Homo sapiens: one gene and its partner. The protein of the gene in region 1 interacts with the protein of each later gene in a pairwise test. Each region holds a gene or a part of one and is shown on either strand. Other genes may lie near its edges.

What was found. The genes of interacting proteins can lie anywhere in the genome.
Region 2: the proteins of GOLGA2 (region 1) and PTPN21 interact in binary tests that used the Homo sapiens proteins (3 or more experiments, as listed by UniProt).

The regions. Positions count from the first base shown.
Region 1 is NC_000009.12:128,259,008-128,262,507, forward strand, and holds part of GOLGA2 (golgin subfamily A member 2), read right to left. Parts: intron 2,751-3,500; coding exon 2,661-2,750; intron 2,555-2,660; coding exon 2,447-2,554; intron 2,253-2,446; coding exon 2,165-2,252; intron 1,796-2,164; coding exon 1,458-1,795; intron 1,183-1,457; coding exon 1,069-1,182; intron 385-1,068; coding exon 160-384; intron 76-159; coding exon 1-75. UniProt on the Homo sapiens protein: Peripheral membrane component of the cis-Golgi stack that acts as a membrane skeleton that maintains the structure of the Golgi apparatus, and as a vesicle thether that facilitates vesicle fusion to the Golgi membrane.
Region 2 is NC_000014.9:88,465,278-88,468,007, forward strand, and holds the end of PTPN21 (tyrosine-protein phosphatase non-receptor type 21), read right to left. Parts: 3' UTR 501-2,730; downstream 1-500.

The sequences.
Region 1 (3,500 bases):
TTCCCCAGGGTGAGCCATGAGGCTCAACTGGGCCCGTAGCTGCTGATTCTGCTGGGTGGCAGCTTCCAGGCGCTCCTAAGGGGCCAGAAAAGAGAGTGAGAAGGCATGGAGGTTGCCAGGTTGTCCCCCTCGGGGCCCTGCCCTCACCAACTCCCTCACCTGGGTTTCCTGCAACTCTTGGCGGGCCATCTCGGCCACCGCTTTGCCCTGAGCTTCCTGCTGCTGCAGCTGGTCCACGAGCTGGGTCTGCAGCAGTAGCTGATTATGCAGCACCTCCTTCTCAGAGGTCAGCTGCTGATAGGCGGCCACATACTGCTGCAGGTGTCCCAGGTACTGGTCTCGCTGCTGCTGCAGACTTTGAGCCTCTTGGCTCTTCAGCTCCACCTGTAGGAAGACCCTGGGCGTGAGGGCAGGTGGTGGCCTGCTTCCAGATTCAGGGCCCATAAATAGGGTAGCGAGGGCTCTGTCACCTGCCCAGACCTCTGGCCCCTTGCTCCAGGCCTAAGTGACTGCCTCCCTTGTCTAGAGCCTCGTGCCTCCTTCCCCAGCCTCAAATTTCACATCCTTCTTCCCACCATTTAAACCGTAGGCCACAGACTGGTGGAAACGCAGAGGGAGCCAACCACCATCTGCTAAGTGTGCTACATGCCTAATGCTTTCCACGTATTATCTCATTGAATCCTCAGCACCTCTGCAAGGAAGATGCTAACTTCCTTTTTAAGTTAAAGAAACTGGGGCTTAGAGATGCAAAGTAGTTGAATGATGACCAGTGGAGCAAAGGCCAGAATCCAGTTTGAATCTAAGGAGCCTCTTATGCCGCTGTCTCTTCCCCTGTGATTGGGAGAAATCCATGCCTCTAGCTGGGACGATGATGTCCAGACCTGAGAGGAGCCCAAAGCTATCCACCTCTAAAAGTCAGAGGGCAGGGAGCAAGAAACAGTCACAGGACTGCCCTGGAGGGTGCTGGGGTCACCTGTGCCCCAGGCTGGAGCTGCCTCTGGCCTCACACCACCCCTCCCCAGAGGCTGGTGCCCGCCTCCCAGCCCTTCTTGGATGGGGCGGGGTTACCGTTTCCTTCAGCTCGCTCAGCTTCTCCTGCAGCTCGCCCAGCTTCTTTCCCAGCTCCCTCTTGACGTGCTGCTCCGACTGCAGTGCGCTGGTGATCTCCATGTTCTCATTAGTCTGGACAGAGAGAAGCAATCAGCGGCCACCCACTGCAGCTGGAGACCCCAGAACTTGCTGCCTTGGTGTCTGCCTCCCATGGCACCGGGAAGGGTGGAGGCAGGTTAGAAAAATCATCCCCTCTCCCCCACAGCCATCGGAGCAGGGCTCTGGCTCACAGATGCCTCCAGAAGTACCATTTCAAGTGAGGGCTACACTGCCCCACTTTACAGGTGGGAAAACAAAGGTCTGGAGGGCTAGGGAGGAGGGCGGGCTCTCCAGGTGGGGCAGCGCACCAGCTTTACAAATCCGCTCTGCAGCTCAGCCAGCTGCTCCTTGAGCTCCCGGTTCTGGGAGAGTGCGCGGCTGATGGTAGTGCGGTCGTTCTGCATGGTCTCCAGGATTTGCCTGCGCGCCTCCGCCTGCTCCCCCCAGAGCTCGGCCGCCCGCTCCAGCTCCAGCAGCCTCTCCTCCTGCTCCCGGTTCAGGCGACTCAAGCCCTCATTGTCTTGCACCTGGGCTTGAAGCTGTCCTGCCAGACCCTCCAGCTCCTTCCGCAGGTGCTCAGCCTCCGCTTGTAGCTGCTGCTCCACCTCGGAGGGCCCTGCTGGGGGCTCTGGGGGCGGGGGTTCAGCTGAGAAAGGACGCAGACAATAAAAGCCTCTGGATTCTCAAAAAAACCCTCCTCTTGGTCCATACCTCCTCTCAAGCTCCCCAAACTTGGCCTCCCTGCTGATGATTCCTCGCACCCGGATGTTAGCCAATCTTCCAAACCACTTTCCGATAGCGACAACTGTGGGTGGCTGACAACGGGCACTCCTTCGTCTTTGCTGATGGGGCACTGAGGCTCATGGAGATGACGAGACTTGCCATCTCCTGGCACAGACCTCTTTCCCTCTGCCTCAAAGCCATTCCATCCACCCAACTCCCTGGGGCATTCTAAACCACCCCCACAACCCTCTGACACCATTCCTGCTCCCAGGTCACCCCAGCCCCAGCTTACCCATCTGGTTCCTCAGTTCAGCCAAGCTCGTCTCCAGCTCCTGTACCCGACTCATGCTACATTCCTTCTCCTCTCTCAATGTGTGCACCTGCCCAAAGCACAGCAAGAAAGGGCCCTGGAGAGGGGCTGGTGGCTGGACAGGCTACCATCTCCCTCTGCCCCCACCGCCACAAAGCCCAGACCCATGACCACCTCTGGCTGTGCTCCTCCCATTTCGCAGATGCCCAGAAAGATCAAGTGACCTATCTAAGGTTGAGGGGGAGCTGAAGGGTCAGGTCTCACCTGCTCTGACATCTGCTGCATCCTCTGCCGCCACATGGCGCTCTCTCCTTTGAGATTCTCCGCATATTTATCTCTCTCCATTTGTAGTTGTCTAACCGACTCCATTACCTGCAAGAATGGCCACAGAAATGAGGAAGGACTGTCACTGGTTGTCACCTACTCCTGGCCACCTGGGGTCATCTTCCTTCTACATCCCTCCCCTGCAAAGCCTCACCTGCCCCAGGTGTGCTTCCAGCTGTGCCCGCTCCTCCATGGCCTGCTGTAACTGCTGGTTAGCATCAGGGGCTTCACACCGGCTTGAAAACTGGATGGTGAAGAGCGAGAAGTTTAGATCTGGGGAGCCCAGGCCGTTCCAAATAGTGCCCCTTAAAAGGGCTAGGGCTAGGCTCAATGTGCAACTCAGTCAATACAACTCTGCTGTCAAGTTTCTTTGCTTTAGAAATAAAAAATAATTTTAAAAAGATCTCAGGCCAGGCATGGTGGCTGATGCCTGTAATCTCAACACTTTGGGAGGCTGAGGTGGGTGGATTGCTTGAGCTCAGGAGTTCAAGACCAACCTCGGCAACATGGCAAAGCCCCGTATCTACAAATACAAAAATTAGCCAGGCATGGTAGTGTGCGCCTGTAGTCCCAACTACTTGAGAAGCTGAGGCAGGAGGATGGCTTGAGCCTGGGAAGTAGAGGTTGCAGTAAGTATCACTCCAGCCTGGGTGATAGAGCGAGACCCCGTCTAAAAAAAAAAAAAAAAAGATCTCTACTCTCTATTATTAGTGAAAGTGTTGGCTTGAACCTCAGAAGGAAATAAACAGACTCATGAGCTAGCCATATAAATGTAATCTCTAAAATAATGGTTTTCACCCATGATGCTTTAAAACAAAACAAAACAAAACAAAACAAAAATTGTCTTAAGCCCTAACCCTAAGATTCTGATTCCCCAGGTCCCCAATTTGTAGATTTTTAGCACTCTCTAGAGGATTTTATGCCAGGACCGGAACAAGGACCCAAATTTTCCAGCTCTTGGCTGGAGTCTCCCCATGCCCTGCATGATCCCTAG
Region 2 (2,730 bases), on another chromosome or scaffold:
CCAACATGGTGAAACCCCGTCTCCACTAAAAATACAAAAATTAGCCGGGCATAGTGGTGCATGCCTGTAATCCCAGCTACTCAGGAGGCTGAGGCAGGAGAATCACTCGAACCCAGGAGGCAGAGGTTGCAGTGAGCCGAGATCATGCCACTGCACTGTAGCCTGGGCAATAGAGCAAGACTCCGTCTCAAAAATAAAAAATAAAATGAGTACTTTCTGTGCTCAAAACTACCAACTAAGCTAAACTATTTCATCAAAAGACCCCACTAATCAGGAAAACTGATACCAGAGATACCAAAATTGATCAGTGGAAAACAGTGGTTTATAACTCTACGTTTTGTGGAAGTGCACATTTTGATAATTCTTATTAAAAGACACTAAGATACATGAAGCATTGTGTAAGTTTGGCAGACATTAATATACTCATTTCAGAGGCAGTAAACCTATGAACCCTTAATGTTCTAGTTTGCTCTTGAAAATGATACTATTTCAAAGCTCAGTAATGTGGATAGATTTTTATTCAGAAATCCTTTCATATTCACTAACTGCAATTAAAAGTTTAAAATTACATGGCTCTTAGGAATGACGCCAAACATGCAACATTTTAAGAGTAATATTAAACAGTAATTTTGCCCTCAGAAGTTTACTTATCAAATTATTACAACAGGAACACAAATAGACCACATATTACTCTTTAATTAGATTTGTTTTACAATATGTTCTTGTCAACGAGCTATGTCAAACTGTTTGTTTAAACCTGACAGAAAAGCATTTTCACAAAAACGTACCATGGAGAGGGAGGGGGAGGGGAAGAAGCACTTTTTCTAGAGATGGAAAATAGTTCCAGTAAAAAGTTCTTATTCCTTTCTTCTAAGGAGCTCGTTCTGAATATTTTCACTTAGTTCTACTGTTCTTTAAACAGGACTTTAAAAAGAATTTTGTATTTACAAAATTTACATTTTGTTCCTACAAAATGTAATTTTTTAATTTTGTAAAATAAAAATGTAAAATTTTAATTTTGTTCCTACATGAGAAGTGTGCGTACTTTCAATTAGTTTTCATTAATATCTTCTGAGTTTTCCTCTTAGGTGGTTGGTTTCTGGGTAAGGCAGAGTTAGGCTGGTGCACACACTATTTAGGAAGTCCTGTCTCGTGGCTGACAACATACATGTAGTGCTCAAGGAAGTGAGTTAAGGAGTGACATGGGAATCAAAATGATGCCTAGAATAGTGTAATTTGGGAAACAGCCCTAGATTTGACATTTTGGAAGTTCACTGTAAGAAGAGACCCCAAAAAGAAGGAAAAGGGAAAGGGTTCCTCAGCTAAATATCCCACTCATCCATGCCTACTCAGCGGTCACTGTGACAAGGCCATCTTAATCGGGGCCAGAGATGACACTCTCCCCCTGTAACTCAGCCTGGCTCTGTCTATTGGGATGTGCCTAAATGGGATGGGTGAGGGGGCACTAAACAGCTAACACTGGCCAGGGAATTATTAAGGAGCTAAAATGCAAGTACCTCTTGAATACCACAGCAATCTCTGTGCACAAATTTGGACTGTACTTTTTGGGAGAAGAGGTGAAAACTATTATTAACTATTCCCTTCCTTCAACCAAAAGGAAAAATACGCCTCTTTAAGGCTTCTTTTAATGATACTATAATGCTGAATTTATTTATGAAAAAGAAACAATACAGGTTGAGGTGGGAAAAGCCCCAAGGAAACGGAGTAAGTCACTGGCGGTCACAGGACTTGAATTCCCTGGGGACAGTGCTGTGGGGTCCCCTGCTCGCCATCCCAGCACCTCAGTCTGAGTATAGATAATACTGCATTTTTGTAAAGACGAAGGCATCCTGCATTTACCATCACACTCCACCTACTCTTGTCCTAGTCATCTTACATACTCTTAGTCCTTAATCTCTCCCAAAACGCTTCTCAGCGCCCATTGTTATTGTGTCATCTACAAAGCAACACATATATTAAAACTCAGATTTGTTTTTAACAAAAAAGTGCTTAAAACCACCCTAGGCAATTGTTTTTCACTTCATTTTCAACCAATAAAATCAAATTCATTTAGATCTATGAATAATACTGAAAAAATAATGCTTATTCTCTTACATTTTAAATAATGTGCCTTCATCCTCAACTTTACATTAACTGACTCATTTCAGTATCTAAATGAATTGAGCTCTCATTTGAAAAACAGAAGGTACAACTATATAGAATTTTTAGGATAAAAAATGTTCTGGATAGAAAAATCCTTTTGATGTTTCAAAATAACACAGATTCTCAGTATAGTTTTCAGTTTGGCAACTAAACCATTATTAAGTACCCAAGGTTTTTAAAAAATAACAAAAGATAATAACATGATTTTTAAATACAAAGTTATATAGGAGCAACTCATATCTGTGGATCATCCTTACACAAAGTTGTTTCTCACTAGAAAAATCCCTAAATATTTGTCATAAAATAAAAACTCCATTATCAAAAATTAGTTTAAGATAGAAATCTATGCACTTTAATGATTGCCAGAATTGCCCAGCATAGCTTCAGTAAAATAGAGAATTGTCTAGAAAATACAATCTCCAAAATGTGTGCAAGTACTGCAAACCGGACAGACCGGGGCAGGGCAAGGCCCTTGAAACCAAGTCCTCCTTGAGCACCTTTCCCAGGTTAGAAACCCCTCTTCAGCCTGTGCTTCGCACGTTTCCTTCAGCGTGCCGCCATTCAGAC